Linked DNA regions of Homo sapiens: region 2 is linked to region 1. The links come from fine-mapping of genetic effects on gene expression. Tissue or cell type: whole blood. Region 1 holds a variant in brackets; the other region holds the start of a gene. All regions are shown on one strand. Distances are from middle to middle.

The links. PIP is the estimated chance that this variant, and not a neighbour inherited with it, causes the effect.
Region 2: CHD5 starts here. The variant in region 1 is fine-mapped to the expression of CHD5 in whole blood (TOPMed, PIP above 0.99).

Annotation. Positions count from the first base shown.
Region 1 is chr1:6,129,319-6,137,419 of GRCh38, forward strand. CHD5 (chromodomain helicase DNA binding protein 5) reads right to left here. Exons shown (of 42, transcript NM_015557.3): 16 at 7,410-7,547; 17 at 7,199-7,320; 18 at 5,912-6,085; 19 at 5,400-5,541; 20 at 4,810-4,941; 21 at 2,313-2,430; 22 at 886-1,010. Among named protein-coding and RNA genes, the nearest start is that of CHD5, 47 kb to the right of the region's middle. The variant G/A (reference allele first, on the strand shown) is at 3,707.
Region 2 is chr1:6,176,542-6,184,636 of GRCh38, forward strand. It overlaps CHD5 (chromodomain helicase DNA binding protein 5), which reads right to left and starts at 3,780. Exons shown (of 42, transcript NM_015557.3): 1 at 3,404-3,780. The coding sequence starts at 3,482. RefSeq lists enhancers at 2,036-2,537, 2,538-3,037.

The sequences.
Region 1 (8,101 bases):
CTGCAGGTGTGCAAGAGTGTGTGAGGGATGATACGGCCAGTGTGCTGGGTGTAACTGAAGCCACACAGAGCTTCGTGGGGGCCACGGGGAGGTAGGAGGCTGCATTTCCCTGTGAGCGAACCACTAATGGGACCACAAGACCATGTGCTGGAGACACGCAGCCACCTTCTGAGGGCAGCAAGGAGCTGAATCTGCCCAGTATAATACAAGGAAGTGCCTGAGACTCTGTGCAGCCCTACATGAGGTGACCTGGGTGTGGCCGTGTATATCTGTGTATGTGCATGGGCGCACACACATGTGAATGAGACATCAATTTGTATGTGTTCCCCTACATTTGTAAGCATTCAATGTGTGTGTCCCAGCGCCCGAGAGGGGTGGCCAGGTACACTAGGGTGGCTCTATTCCCATACCCCTCCCCCCACAGCCCTTCCATCCTTCCTTACAGCCCCATCTGCCCCTTGCACTATCTTATCCTCCCCTCCACCTCCAACAGGCCCCACTCTCTGCTCCCCACCCCCTTCAAAATGGGTGCCCCTCTGGGTCCCAGGGCTCCCTCTTCCTGCCTCCCTCCACGGCCTTGGTCCTGAGGATGATGGGAAAGACCAGATCAGTGGCCACTAGGAACTGCTGTGCGCCCTGGGACACTTCCCCTGCCCTCTCCAAGCCTGCTTCCTCCTCTGGACAAGGACAGAGCTGGAGGGATGGGGGCCAAGCTTCCACTCACTCCCAGAGCCCCTCTTGGGGCCGAGACTCCACGGGGGAGGGAGGCCCACAGCACCAGGATAGGTGAGGGGGTGATGGCAAGAAGGGCATGAAGGACAGAACCTGCCTGAGGCCCGGGATGAGAGGCCCCCTGGGAGGGTGGTGGGCGGCAGCAGCACAGACCTGGATGTCATTGTGCGGGTTCCAGTCCGAGTCGTAGATGATGACAGTGTCCGCCGTGGCCAGGTTGATGCCCAGACCACCTGCCCGGGTTGAGAGGAGGAAGCAGAACTGCTGGGCCCCGGGGGCTGAAAAAGAGAGGCCAGCAGATGGGAGTGTTTGGGGGGGTACACCTTGGGTGGGCAGAAAGGATGGGGGAGAGAACAGAGAGAAGGAACTGCAGCAACAGATCCCTGGCAGAGAAGGACAAAGCCGGAGACCCCATCAGAGACGGGTGGCCACAGCTGCACTCAGGGGAGCCAGAGGAGGCCTGCCCAAGCCCACTTAGCCCCCAGCGAGCTCTGAGCCCTAGTGCAGTGGGAGGGCACTGGAACGAGGAGGTCAATTTTCAAACCCCAGATGAGCAAAAAACAAAGTGCAAGCCGCCAGCAAGTACAAGCAGAGCCCTAGAGAGCTCAGAGTCCTTCATGTCCCCGCAGCTTCCCACCCCTGGCTTCCCTTAGCCCACCGATGCTGCCAGGGCAGCCCGGGAAAACTCAGGGGCGCAGCTCCGGGACCTGGGGTCCCACCCCACTGGGCAACCCTGTCACAGGATGGCTGGTTCTCAGCCTCTCAGGGCCCTTCAGTGACCTGGGACTGACCACAGCCCCCACTGGAGCTGCAAACAGGCCCCTGGCACACCCAGGGCTTCAGCCACTCCTGCTTCCACATGTGGCTGGGCCACGTCTAGACCCTGAAACTCTGAACTTGCTATTCCTCCTGGCTCTCTGGCACAAGTGTTTGAGAGGAATCACTGCTTTGGGCGTTTGGAGAGCGTGGCCCCAGCCCCTAAGGGCTGACGCCCCAGGGAAACAAAGCTTGTTACTATTTGCTGCAAACTTGCTACTGAAGCTTACAGCCGACTGCTTCCCACTCCAGAAGTTTCTTTTGCTACAGGAGGAACTCCACCGGCAAGACCCTCCTGACCTCCACCCTCGCCTCTCCTTCCCAGGCAGGGAAGACCAAGCATGGGTGACTCTGGGGAAAGAGCCTGATCATGTGTGGCCCAGCCCTTTCACTCTCTCCTGCCTCTGGAAGTGGCCCCAGGTAGCACGTGCATCTCTGTACCTTCTGCCACCATTCACCATACGGCAGGCTCTGTCCAACACCACTTGTAACTGGGGCTCACCTGGCGTCAATATTAGAGGCCCCGTCTGCGTTTCTCATTGTCTAACTCCATTCCCAACAGGTGTTATCTACTGGGCCCCTCAGAACTCCGATTCCATGGGAGGAATCCTTTTAACATTGGAAACTCGGACTGGCCTGCTGTCTTTAGCTGTTTGTGAGGCTGCTCAACACAACACCAGCTGGGTGACCTGGCTAAGAACCAGGCCTGGGAGAAGAGGCCAAAAAGGAGTCTCAATCAGAACCCTTGGGCAGGATGGGGGTACCATTGAATCTGTCGATTGCCTCCTGCCGGAGGCCCCCGGTGATGCCACCATCAATCCGCTCATACTTGTAGCCTTCGTACTCCAGGAAGTCCTCCAGGAGGTCCAGCATCTTGGTCATCTGCAGGGGAGACGGGCACGTGAGGAACTGCCAAGGAGCAAGGGGCCCCATGGGCCATGGGCGGGGACCCCGCCACAGGCAGGGGAGGAGAGAGCTGCCTGCTAGGTGGGGAGACAGCTGGGACCCAGGCAGGCCCAATGCAGGACTCTGGGGAAGAACAAAGCTTCCAACCTCACCCCTTGGAGCCAATCCATCCTCCTGCCTAGCCCCACAGCCACTTACCTAAATCAGGGCTCTGACATGAGCCTCCCCTGCTCCCACCACACAGAATTAAGTTCCATCTCACTGCCCTGTATTCAAGGCGCTGCAGGACGAGTGCTCCTTCACAGCCCCCAGCCATTCCAAACTACCTGACTCTCTTCCTGGAATGCCCACCCCCTTACTGCCTAGGGAACATAAACATCACCTCTGTGATGTCTTCCCTGATTTCACTCCTCCCCATAAGAAAAGAAAGGCAGTCCCTTCTGAGCTCCCATGACCCCGTATAATTCCCTTTATTCTCGAGAGAGAGTTTAGCTGGATATAAAACTATCAGCACACATTTTCCCTCAGTGCACCGGAGATTTTGCCATGGTCTCTGCCACCTGTTGTTGTTAAGAAGTCTGAGAACGATCTGGCTGCCCTTATTTTGTAGGTACTAGGTCTAAAGTACCTAGAGGTTCTAACGTGTCTACGGGTTCATTTATTTATATTTATCTTGCTTGCTATTCCAGAATGCACTCCAGATCTGAGACCTCACATTTCTCTCCAGGTCTGCAAACTCTCAACAAATCCAACTTCTTCACCATTTTTTCTGTTTCTTCTGCAACTCCAATTGGATGATTGTTGGAGCATCTCAAGGTGTCTTCCATGTTCTCCCTGTTTTATCTTTGTCTCTGTACATTGCATTCTGGGAAAATGCCTCAGCACCAGGTTCCAATTTATCAATGTTCTCTTCAACAGTGTTCAGAGTCTGTCCAGTCTGTTGAAATGTTTTATCTCAATTTCATGCATGTTTCTATCCAATTGTTCCTATTTCAGTTCTTCCTGCTTTTGCTTAATTTCTTCTTTATTTTAGGGTGTCAATTACTCCATCATTTTTGAGGATCCTAAACACATCTATGTAAAGTCTTTTCAGGCTATCCTATTCTTTTCTCTCTCTCTCTCTCTCTCTCTCTCTCTCAAGAGACAGGGTCTTGCTCTGTCACTCAGACTGGAGTGAAGTGACAAGATCACAGCTCACTGCAACCCTGAACTCCTGGGCTCAAGCAATCCTCCTGCCTCAACCTCCCAAGTC[G/A]CTGAGATTACAGGGTGAGCCACTGCGCCCAGCCCCTATTTTCTTATTTGGATTCTATTTATTGTTTTGGGGGATGTCTCAGCATTCACTTTTGTATGGGTTTGGAATTGGGGTTCATAGGCTCATTTTGGGCAGGAGGGCCCCGTCTCTGTCGCTTGCCCTGTGTGCACATTTCTGGAAGCTGTGTGGTTCCCATTACTTGGTATCTCAAGGCCTCTGATCAGACTTGCGTCTCGTGTTGGTACCGAGGTACTGGGGGGATGTGGGTCCATCTCCACTCCAGCCCACTCCTTGGCTCAGCCCCTGGTCTCAAACTTGCCCTGCTTTCCAGTATTCTTCGGGCTGAAGCAGCCCAGCAGGGTGACCTGGGGCTGCAGGCGGCGGACGCTGCTTTCAGTTGATGTTTGTGCACAAGGAGCCATAGCCCAGACTCTGGGTTTGAGCAAGGGGCCTGGCTCAGTGGGCCCACGAGAGGAGCATTTTTAGCCCCATGACCCTGTAGGATCATCACTGTGGCCTCCAACACAGAGCTGACCACAGGGTCGGGTACCTGTCCCTTGAGCTGTCTCCCACAGTAGACTGAGCAGCTTGAGGACAGGGACTAGATCACTGGTCCCTGCACCCATGTGCCAGCACAGAGCCTGACTATGACAGACGCAAACAAAGGGATGGAGGAAGAAATGAACACACCTGAGCCGGCGGCCCTGCCTCCAAGCCAAAAAGCCAGGTGCCAGTGGCCCCTCAGGGCCTATTGGAGAGAGGGGCTCCTCCCAACCACACCCCAGGGCCCTACCTTAATGAGAAGCCAGGCTGCGGGGGAGAGGGCCAGGGCAGGGGAGGAGGGGCTGTCCTACCAGCCTGGACATGCAGACCAGAAGGGCAGGTGTGGGGAGATGTTGCTCTTTATGGCAAATGTGTTCTGAGCTCCTCAGCCGCATTATGCCAGGGCACGGGGGAGTGACCCCTGACACACAGTCACATGACCCACATGGGAACGGCACTGGGCCCTGAGGGGTGCCAGCAAGTTTGCGCCCCCAAGCATCAGGGCAGGATGCTCTCTGTGGGGTGTGGAGCCGGGGCGGGGGTGGGCAGGGGCAGCGCACCTGGGAGAAGATGAGCACACGGTGCCCCTCATCCCGCAGTTTCTTCAGCATCTTCTGTAGCAGCATGAGCTTCCCTGAAGACTTGACCAGGGAGCTTCCATCGTAGGAGCCATTGGGCAAGACAGGGGCCTCCTGCAGACACAGCAGGAGGTGGGGCATTGGTGGGCTCCCCTCTCCTCTCTGACTCTGCACCAAAGGGGCCGCAGGGAACAGACAAGTGCTGAGCAATGGGGTGATGGCCTGTCTGCCCACTGAACATGAGACCCACACCCGAGCCAGGCCAGGCCCCACAGTGCGGGGTAGACCGTGGGTCCCACGGCCCTGGCTCCAGGCCCCCCGTTCCCAGGCAGGGCTCACAGCCGCACCAGCCCTACCACAGCAGCGGGTTCCACGGTAAGTTCCCCAGCACCTACCAGAGTGGCCACAGGCAACCTTCCATGATGGCCAGGGAAACCTACCATGACAGCCACAGAAATCGCCACAATGGCCAGGAGAACCTATCACAGCGGCCACAGGGACCTACCATGGCGGCCACAGGCACCTACCATGGCGGTCATGGAGAAGCTGCCATGATGGCCGGGGAAACCTACCACGGCAGCCACAGGGAAGAGGTAGGGGTGGTTGCAGCACTTTTTCAGGTCCATCATGATGTTGAGCAGCGATACTTGGTTCCCGCCCCCCTTGGAGTTCAGTGCCTCAAAGTTCCGTGTGAGGATGAACTTGTAGTACTTCCTGCAGCAGGGCACGAGGAAAGGCAGGCTGGGTCAGACCCGCCTCCATGAGGGCTCTCTCTGCTCTGCAGTGGGGCTGGAAGCTGGTGGCCAAGCACCCATTTACAGAGAGACCCAAGGGACCCCCAAGAGGTGAAGCCACCGGCCTGGAGTCCCCCTGCAAGTGACTGGGGGACACTGCCAGCACTCAAGCGACCCAAACTCTGGTCACTAAAACCTGAGAAGAGGCCCCACGAAGAAAGTGTATGCAAAGCATTAGCCGAGACCTCAGTGAGGCTGAAGAGCCCTCCGCCCACCTGGGAATCGACCCAGGAGACCAGCCCAGGGGAAAGGGCGAGCACAGGCTGCTCCGGGGTCAGCCCATCACTCACTTCTGCATCTGGCTCAGCTCCACCCGGACAATGAGCTCGGTCTTGGCCGGCATGTTCTTGAACACGTCAGCCTTGAGCCGCCTGAGCATGTGCGGCCCCAGCAGGTCATGCAGCTTCTTGATCTGGTCTTCCTTGGAGATGTCAGCAAACTCCTCCAGGAAGCCCTCCAGGTTGCTGCAACAAAAAGCTGGGATAACAGCCAGGAGCAGAGGACCGGGGCAGGGGAGGCAGGGTGCAGAGCGCCTAGCCCATGTAGGCCGGCTAGCTGGTGAACCAGGGAGCCCTGGCATTGCCCTGGATATCGTCTCAATTTCTGTCTAAGCCTGTGTCACCTCCACACATCACAGCCCTCTTTTCCTCAGCCACACTGGACACCTTTCCATCCTCAAAACCGTCCTGGACAGGAGCTCTCTATTACCCAGATAACAGATGAGGAAACTGACTCTGATGAGTGCCCGAGTTGATACAGTCCAGCTGTGCCAAAACCGGCCCTCAAATCTACATCTCCTGGTGGCTCATGCCTGTAATCCCAACACTTTGGGAGGCCGAGACGGGCAGATCACCCGTCGGGAGTTCAAGACCAGCCTGGCCAATATGATGAAACCCCAACTCTACTAAAGATATACAAAAATTAGCCGGGCGTGGTGACACATGCCTGTAATCCCAGCTACTCAGGAGGCTGAGGCAGGAGAATCACTTGAACCCAGGAGGCGGAGGTTGCAGTGAACTGAGATCAAGCCACTGCACTCTGGCCTGGGTGACAGAGTGAGACTCTTTCTTTTAATAAAAAAAAACAACAAAAAAAAAAAACACTGCATCTCCTGATTCCAAAATCGACACTGTGCACCCTGAACCCCCCATTCTGAGCAGGCAAGTGGAGGTAGGTGAAGATGAGGGGGATGGGGCGGTGGGCTCCGGCCACCGGGGAGCTTGCCTCTGCCTCCACCACGGTTGCCTATGTGAGTCACTTGGGTCTCAGTGGAGGGAAAGGAACCTGCCAGGGGAGGCAGTCCAGGAGGAACCCCGGGTGGTCTAGGGCAGAGCTAAGGAAAAGTCGTGGTATTAGCAGCAGTTGATATTTACCAAACATTCCCATGTGCCCACGCCACCCACCCCAACACCCTGCTCCTGCAGGAGGTCAAAGCGGGGACATTGCTAATGCTCCCATTTTACTGATGAGGAAGCAACGGCCGAGCAGGTCTCACAGCCAGGATGGGCTATTGATCCGTCTTCACTGGGGCCACCCAGCCCCACCACCACCTCCCTAGCCAGATCCAGGTGACTCACTTGAACCTCTCTGGAGTCAGGAAGTTGAGGAGATGGAACAGCTCCTCCAGGTTGTTCTGAAGGGGGGTCCCTGTCAGCAGCAGCTTGTAATCAATCTTGTAGCTGTTTAAGACCCTAAAAAACTGAGGGGAGGAGAGTGGGGCCTGTCAGGGGGCTCTGGGCGGCCCCTCGCCCCGGGAAGCTCTGGGGTCTGGCGGCCAGCGCCACCTACCTTGGACTGGTTGTTCTTGAGGCGGTGGGCCTCATCTACCACCAGGCAGGCCCACTCGATGGAGCCCAGGATGGCCTGGTCAATGGTGATGAGCTCATAGGAGGTGAGCAGCACGTGGAATTTGATCTGCACTTCTTTCTGGAGAAAAGAGGGGCATTGGGGATGAGACGGCTGGGAGCAGAGCGGATCACAGTCCCAGGAGACAAAGAGCCAAGAAGGAGGTGTGCACAGGAACCCACAAAGGCTCCACGGAGCCCTGGGCCGGCCAGCCTAGGACCAGAGGGGCAGATGCTGACCACCAAGCAGAGGGGCATCCACTGAGGCTCAGAACACAGCCCTGAGAGAGGGTGGTGTGGAGGAGGAGAAGAAACGGCCTCGGCTTGTAACAGCTCCAGTGAGACAGTGTCTTACTCCCACCCCCCAGCGTGGAGTACAGTGGCACGATCACCACTCACTTGCAGCCTCCACCTCCCAGGCTCAAGCAATCCTCCCATCTCAGCCTCCCGAGTAGCTGGGACTACAGGCATGCCTTACCACACCCAGCTAATTTTTGTATTTTTGTAGAGACAGGGTTTCACCATGTTGCTGAAGCTGGTCTCAAACTTCTGAACTCAAGTGAACCGCCCACCTCGACCTCCCATAGTGTTGGGATTACAGGCGTGAGCCACCACGACCAGCCCTGGCTCTGGGCT
Region 2 (8,095 bases), 47 kb after region 1:
CAGGCTCCTACTCCCCTGAGCTTACTGGCTAAGGATGCAAGTATCAGAAGCATTTCCTTGGAGAAGGCAGGACAGCTGCCCTCCTTGGCTGGTGCTAACTACACCAGCCACAGTTTATTGAGCACCTATCATGTGCTGGGCACTGTGGCCTAATGTTCCACATGCACTGTCTCACTGTTCCTCATAATAACCCTCTATGAGGTAGCCAGTGCTATGTCCCCATACTACAAGTGGGCACACCGAGGAGAGGGCTGCCTGGCTTGTCCAAGACCACTCAGCTAATGCTCAGAGCTAGAAGCCAAGGCCTCATCCCACCAGCTCTTGACCCCTGGCTTCAACCAGCCACCCCAACTCCCAGGAGAATCTGGCAACTGCTGGTCCCCCAACCAGAAGAGGCACCCGCCCTGCCTTCCTCCTAGAAGCTGGCTCAGACACCTGCCTCAATGCCAGAGCTGGCCAGGGCAAACCTCCCCCTCCCCACCATCACTGCACGGGAAACAATAATTCACTGCTGAGAGTGAGCAACTCCCAGGGGGAGGTGGGAGATGAGCAGAGTCAAAGAAAAAAGATCGGACAAGTCATGAGTTTAATAGCCGTAGACTGAAAAATCATCATGACAGCTTCCAAAACACTAGCTCCTCCAGCCACAAACTTCCATCTTTTGGAACCAGCTGGTTCTGGTCTTTGGGGGTCACCGCCACTGAGCTTGGACTCAGGGCTGCATAGGGGCTATGAGGAAGAGCTCAGGGTGAGTGGGGGGCCAGCAGTGCGACTTGACAGGAGGCCTGGCTAGGGCTGTCTTCACAGCCAGAAGCTGGGGTGACCTAGAGAGTCCCAGCCCTCAGACACTGAAACCACAACCATCTCTCAGGAACGCATGGTTTCAGGTGCTGGGCATGGCAGGTTATCGAGAGTTACATTCGAAGGGGAACCCACAGATCCAGGAGGAAACTGATGACAACGTTTCGAGTATGTGAGGTGTGGTGACACAAGCATGTAGTCCCAGCTACTAGGGAGGTTGAGGCAGGAGGATCGCTTGAGCACAGGAGTTCAAATCCAGCTTGGGCAACACAGCAAGACCCCATCTCTTCCAAAGAAAGCATGACAATGTGTCTCAGAGTGACTGGAAGGCCCTTAGCAAGGGTGTCCCTCCCCATCATAACATTCGAGCTGGGACCTAAATGACCAGGAGGCAGCGGTGAGCAGAGGAAAGAGCAGGTCAGGCAGAGGTCACAGCCAGGGCCCCATGGCAGGATGGAGCGTGGAGCGTGGAGTGTTCCAGAAGCAGCAAGGAGGCCAGCGTGGCTGCTGTGAACAAAGGGGTACAGGAGTGGACCCGGGACAAGGGTTTCAGAGGCGACTGGAGCCATGCGGGTCGGGATCTGACTTGGGTTCACGAGGTGACCCCAGCTGCTGTGCAGTGGGTGGTCAGAAGGAGTGGGTAGAAGGCCCTGGAGGGGACCGGCAGGAGGGGACAGAGGCTTGGACCCAGAACATGGAGAGAAGCCAGGAGCCTGGAAAGGCTCTGGAGGTGGAGCAGCTGGCCTTGCTGATGGATGGGGACAGAATCCCCAGGCCAGAGGTGCCAGAGCAGGGCGTCTCTTCTGCAGGGCTCTGGGGGCACTCCTGGAGGCTCTGGGGCCAACCCACCGAGGGGGAGCACGGGTGGTGGGCAGGATGACCAGAGCCCCGCCTCTCTGGCCCAAGCAGTGAGTCGGGTGCCTACTAGACTGGGGGCACCTTCCCTGGCCTCTTCCCCTCCCCAACCTCTAAGTCCCCACATAGTCAGAGAGAGCCGGAGTGTAAGATGGGAAAGACAGCCAGGGGACTCCACCAGCGGGTCGGTGCAACCCCAGAAATGCCACTGATCCCACAAAAGGGCCACACCCCAAACACCATAACAAACAACTTGCTGAGAAAACCAGTAAACTGGCTTACTGGGGAGCCAGCCTCCTAGGTGGAAAATGGCCACTGATTTTTTTTTGTGCCTGTGCGGGGCCTCAGAGTTCCCCTCCGGAGAATGGGTCTAATTCCAAGGACCCAGGATATGACAGTCAACTATTGTCCAGGCAACTCCACCCCAAGAGAGGACTCCCCTATTCCCCGTCCCCAGCACGCTCGCTGCCAACTTGGCCTGTCTAACAGGCGAGGTGAGTGCCGGGCTCCTGTAGGAGCTCAGTGACAGCATTAAAGCCACCAACTAACCAAGCAAGCAAACAGAAGGGGGCAGGGGGTGTGGCCACCTGGTGGGAATACCCTCCCCAGAAGACGCTGGCTGCTTCCTCCAACAGGAGCTGGAGGTGTCCATTTGTGGAGTCTTCTCACCCCTGGAAGTCAGAAGGGGCCAGATGCACGTTCCTGGGCCCGGGAGGGCCTCCAGCCTCCCACAAGTCTCTCCGAAGTCCAGAGAGGCCACAGACTTGGCGCAGGGAAGCCGAGAAGTAAGAGTCTCCCAGAAAGGAGGGAGGGTGGCTGACAGGGTGGGGCCCTACCCAGCTGTGCCAGGAGGGAAAACGTCCCAAACAAATGGTGAGCAGTTAACTAAAGAACTGTCCCGCAAGGCAACCCCTGGCGCACAGCCCTGTGTATACTAAATTCTGAGAGAGATAAAAGGAGAGAGATGGTAGGGGCAGGGGCGGTGGCCCTGGGGCGTCAGGCCCGTAGCCAAGGCAGGGTGGGCTGGGAACGGCCACCACCCTGGGCGATGGTGAGGCTGGAGACAGCGGCGGGCGCTAGGTCGCGCCAGAAGGACGCCGGCGGCCCGGGTAAAGTGCTTGGGAGCGGCGGTCACAGCGCACAGAGGCCAGGAAAGAGGAGCAGGGGTCCGAGCCCGTGCGTCCCAGAGCGGAGTCCTCCTGGGCCGGGAGGGAAGCCGCCCCATCCTGGGCGCTCAACGCGTCCCCAAGCACCGCCGGTCCTCGCCCCTCTCTGGGCCCCACCCAGCCCGCCCCGCGGCCGACATGGGCCAGGGGCCGGGTCCCGCCTGCCCGCAGCGAGGCCAGAGGCGCACGGCGGCGGGACGCGAGCGCGGGGTGCGCCGCTCCGGGAGCTAGCGCGATTCCCGCCCCCTTCAAGGGCACGCGGGCTGACCCTGACAGCGCCGCGCCCCCCAGCGCAGGCCCCGGCCCGCGGTCCTCTGGCCCGCCTGGCCCGCGTCGCCGCCCGGGGGGCCCGGATCGCACCCCGCCCTTAGCCGCCCTCACGCCGGCCCGGGCGCTCACCCAGCCTTCGCCCTTGGCCGCGCGGCGCCAGCAGGGCGGGAGCGCAGCCCCGCAACCCGGGTGCCCCTCCTGCGAGGCGCCAGCCCGGCCGCGCCGCCCCCGCCGCCCGCGCTCCGCCCTGGGCCCGGCCCGTCTCGGCGCCCCCGCCGCTCTGGCCCCAGGCGCACCCGCGCCCCGCTCACCTGACATCTCGTCCTCATTCTCCATCTCCTCGGCGAACAGCCGCGGCAGCTCCTCCTCGGTGCCCACTGGGCCCCGCATGCCCGGCGCGGGGAGGAGGGGAGGTGGGCGCCCCCCCTCCCGCCGGGCGCGGTGCCAGCCTTAACCCGTGCGCTGCCGGACCGGCGCGCGCGGCGGGCGAGGCGGCCTCGGCGAGAAGATGGCGGCCGCCTGCCCCCCCACCCCCCCAAACCTCCACCCCCCCGTCTCGACCCCCCTTTCTCTCGGCCGCCTTAGCCTGCTCCCCGCAAAGCCCGGGCGCTCCTCCCACCGCGCCCCGCAGCCCGAGTCCCGCAGCCGGCCGAGGGTGGCGGCGGCAGCGCCAGAGGCACGGCGGCACGGCGGGGGGGCGGCACACATGCCCGGATTGTGACGTCCAGTCTGGTTGCTGTGGCAACCCCATCCCATCGTTCCGGCAGCGCGACTAGTTAACAGCAGAGAACAAGTTGGGGGACTAGTCCTGAGCCGCCGGGTGAGGGTGGGGACCGGGGGGCGCCCCGGCAGGGGGAGCCGTCGAGGCGTCCGCGCGCCCGCGGACCCGACGGCCGAGCGGGCAGTCGGGGCTTGGCGAGCCCGGGCGCAGGGGGAGGCGAGGAAACACCGCCCCCGCGCACCCCGGGCAGAGCCAGCCGCCGCCGCTCGCCTGCGAAGGCGCTGGGCCCCGAGCCCCCAAGGGCGCGGAGGCAGGGTCTTCAGGGCAGCGCGCGGCCCGCTCCCCCACTCGGTTCACAGGCGCCGGGACCCACCCCGCTCCCGGCTCCGGCCTCGGCACGTTCCTAACCCCCTCTCCAAAGAGGATTAGAAGAAAAATGTGTTCCACACTTGGGGAAAAGACGCTCTGGAGACTGTGGGTCTGATTTACAGCAGAAAAATCCGCGCAGGCGGGCTCCCCTCACCTGCTTCCCCGCTCCCACCGCCCACGTGCCCCCTTCCAAAAAGCCCCTCCAGGCTGGGTGCAGCTGAAACCCATGCAGACCCCTAGGGGTGGTGCGGATCTGCGATGTCTGTGCCCAAAACTCCCGCTCAGAAGCGACACCTGTCGCAGAGCAGGAAGGAGCCGCCGCCACCAGCCCTCGGTCGTTAAAGGTGAAGATGGAGGCCAAAGCCCTCGGGAGCAAGACTGGAATTTTAAATGAGCGCCTCCAGTCTCCGCGGCGGCAAGTCTTAAAGCTACCTTAAGAACGCAAAAGTTCCAGGGGCTGGCCGACCGCCAGCTCTCTAACCCCAGAAGGCCCGTGAAGGGAGGGCCCCCTCTCACTGCCTCGCAGGGGCACTGGGGGAACCCACCTGAGACACGCAGGATCGGCAGCAGTTTCCCTTCTTCCCGTTCAATTTTATTGCCAGCAAACCCCAAACAAAAGACCCTCTGCATTCATCCCTGGGCAAGGAGAGGTCGGTCCAGCCTTCTGGAACCAAAGACTGGGGTGTTGGGAACCCCTCCATCTCCCAGATCCGCTTTAACTACGCTGTAGATAGAGAAGCCGGGTCAGCCCAGTGCTGGCCGCCTGCAAGGGGAAAGGAACACTCTTCAGGGAAGCAGGCCAGGAAACCAAAGGGCCTCCCCTCCCAAGGCCGTGTTTCCCCACAGAGCAGCTAGCCAGGGGGAGCCCCAGATCACCGAGGCTTGAACCAAACCTGCCTCTTCCTCGTTCTTTCCAGACCAACTGCCTCCATGAATGGTGACCAACAAGGGAAGAAAGCCCTAAGCTGACACGCCCACCCCTCAGTTACCAGCCCCCCAACACCTCTCTAATCCCTTTCAAAGGTCCCCTGCCCTTCGGTAGAAAAACTCTGATTTACAATACTTCTCATCACCAGAAAGCCGCCCCCATCATTAACCCTGGCTCCAATTCCCAAGGCGAGGCTGAAAGTCAAGATATCGTTCAAGAAAGAACAGTTCTAACTGCTTAATCTGGCAACAAATTAGAGCCGAGATGCTCATCAGTCATAATCCTCTCCCCATCCTGTTCTTCCCGATGACTGCAACTAGGTAATATTATTTAATGTCCAAAAGCAAAATGAAACAAAAACTGGAATGCTAGAAACAAATGGATTTTTTTACTACAAATCTCCAGGTTTTTTGGGTTTTTTTTTTCAAGGGGGGGAGTTGAGATGGTGTCTGTCGTCAGGCTGGGGTGCAGTGGCGCAATCTCAGCTCACTGCAAATCTCCGCCTCCCGGGTTCAAGCGATTCCCCTGCCTCAGCCTCCCCAGTAGCAGCTGGGACTACAGGCGCGCACCACCACACCTGGCTAATTTTTTGTATTTTGGTAGAGACAGAGTTTCACCCTGTTGGCCAGGATGATCTCAATCTCCTGACCTCGTGATCCGCCTGCCTCGGCCTCCCAAAGTGCTGGGATTACAGGCGTGAGCCACCATGCCCGGCTCTCCAGTCATTTTTAAAGGTGAGCCCTTATTATTGTTAAACTATTAAATGGGTATTTTAATGACAACGGACCAAAAATGCATGACGTTAAAAGCAATCCCTGAAACTTGCAACTCTGCGTTGCAAGAACAAGCCTATCATTAAGGTTACTGTTTTAGGAGACAAGATTCTCATGTTTGCTGATCATAGAGCTCATAATTACACCTCAGTGACAATTCCAAAATCAAAATATTTTTTAATATACCGGTTACAAAAGCATCAAGGAAAAAACTTTTTTCGGCTGGGTGCAGTGGCTCACACTTGTAATCCCAGAACTTTGGGATGCCGAGGCGGGCAGTCATGGATCACCTGAGGTCAGGAGTTCGAGACCAGCCTGGCCAACATGGAGAAACCCCATCTCTACTAAAAATACAAAAATTAGCCGGGCATGGTGGCGGGCGCCTGTAATCCCAGCTGCTCGGGCGAGTGAGGCAGGAGATTCGCTTCAACCCAGGAGGCAGAGGTTGCAGTGAGCCAAGATTGCGCCACTGCACTCCAGCCTGGGTGACAGAGCGAGACTGTCTCAAAAATAGAAAAAAAAAAAACTTTTTCCAAGAACAGAGTGGAAAAAGCTCATCGTCTTCTGCACATACCATACTCAATTTCCATTCCAGGACTAAATGAACTCCTCATCCAGGAACCCCCAAGGCCTGCCTGAGGCCATTTCGTTCAACAATGCATATCCACGCTGTGGCCACCTGGCACCACCAGCTTCTCAAGGGCAATGAAGTGCTTGTACATACACCACCTCACAGCGAGTCACATAGATCAAAACTCTGCCCCACACCTCCTCCTCGGCAGGGGTGAAACGGCGTCACTCAGGACCGCAGTGTCCTCTGCAATGAAGGCTCAGTGCCCACCTGCTGCACCAAGACTTTCGTTGCACTTGAAGGCTTTTTCCGAAAGTGTGGACCCTGCACCACCTGAATTCAAATCAGTTGGGGTTGCAGGGGAGGAAGGAGCTTCTCAAAAAGGCAGCCCTGGGCCATGGCCCTGAACCTGAGAAAATCCTTGTGTAAGCCTGAGAACGTTTTATGGGTGTTCTCTGGGTTCTAGCTATGGTGGCAGCTAACTCACTCCGCTGGTCAGCACAGCCTTTACAGACTGTTTTAGCTGGGCCCAAAATAGCCTGGGGGAAAAAAAAGAATGTGTATTCTCAAATCCATCCCAAAGACAAGAAAATGGCTGGATGAGAAATTCAGTTTCCTGTTCCTAGAGATAAGCACTATGATTGCACCGTTTAACAGGCAGTCCTCACCTCCTTCCTGTAGGTGGAGGGCTACCTCCTTGCAGGGATGGCAAATCCCCACACCAAGCCTCTCTTCTACCCTCTTCTCCCTCAAAGAGAATCAACCCCACAGTTTATTCCACTAAATACAGGCCCATCACCACGACTCAGCGAACAACCTGGGCAGGTGCCAACCCAGGCTCTCCTTCAGGGACCTGGCCCATCTCTCACCGCCGTGGTGCCCCTACCCTGCAGCTTCTGACTCGTCACCCCAGTATTCTGTCCAAGGGTTACTGGGGAGATGGTCTGTCCCCTGGAACTGCCAGATCTGTAACTGTCCCACATCCTAGGTCCCCCTCTCCTGTGGGAGGTCTTGGTTTACAATACTTGACAAGTTTAAGGGTCTGAGTCCCATGTACAAATGGAAAGTGAAATCAGGTGTCAACACCAAATTCCAGGCTCCCCTGACATCAATGACTTCAACAGCCGGACCATTATTCCCCATCACCAGGGTCCTTATCACCCTCCAGGAAATCAAGTGTCCCCTAAAAAGGCTGAGCTCTAGATAGCCCCAGATATCAACTGTCTTAAGACACTTGGTATTATCCAACTTCCTCACTTTCCCCGTGTTTCTGACCACCTCTGTGCTACACACCATTCATGAGCAAAGTTAGGACCCACGTATTTCAACACCTGGCTGCTCCTGAAAATGTATGAGGACAACAGTCCTCAAAACCCAAACACTTCACCACTGGAAGTGCCATGGGAAAAGGGGGATCAGAGGCTTTTTGGAGGGAAAACATGAAGCCTTTAGAAGTGACTAGTTCGTAGCACTTAGTGACATCAACAAACCTCATTTCCTCAGCTGTACCAGCACACTCGAGGGAAGGGCGTGAAGGTGTTGTGTAACTGGCATTGGCTGAGACGAGACCAACCTCCTGTTTCCGGACTCTTATGAACTTAAATCACGGCTTGAAACTCTCCACGACCCCAGTCAGCCCCT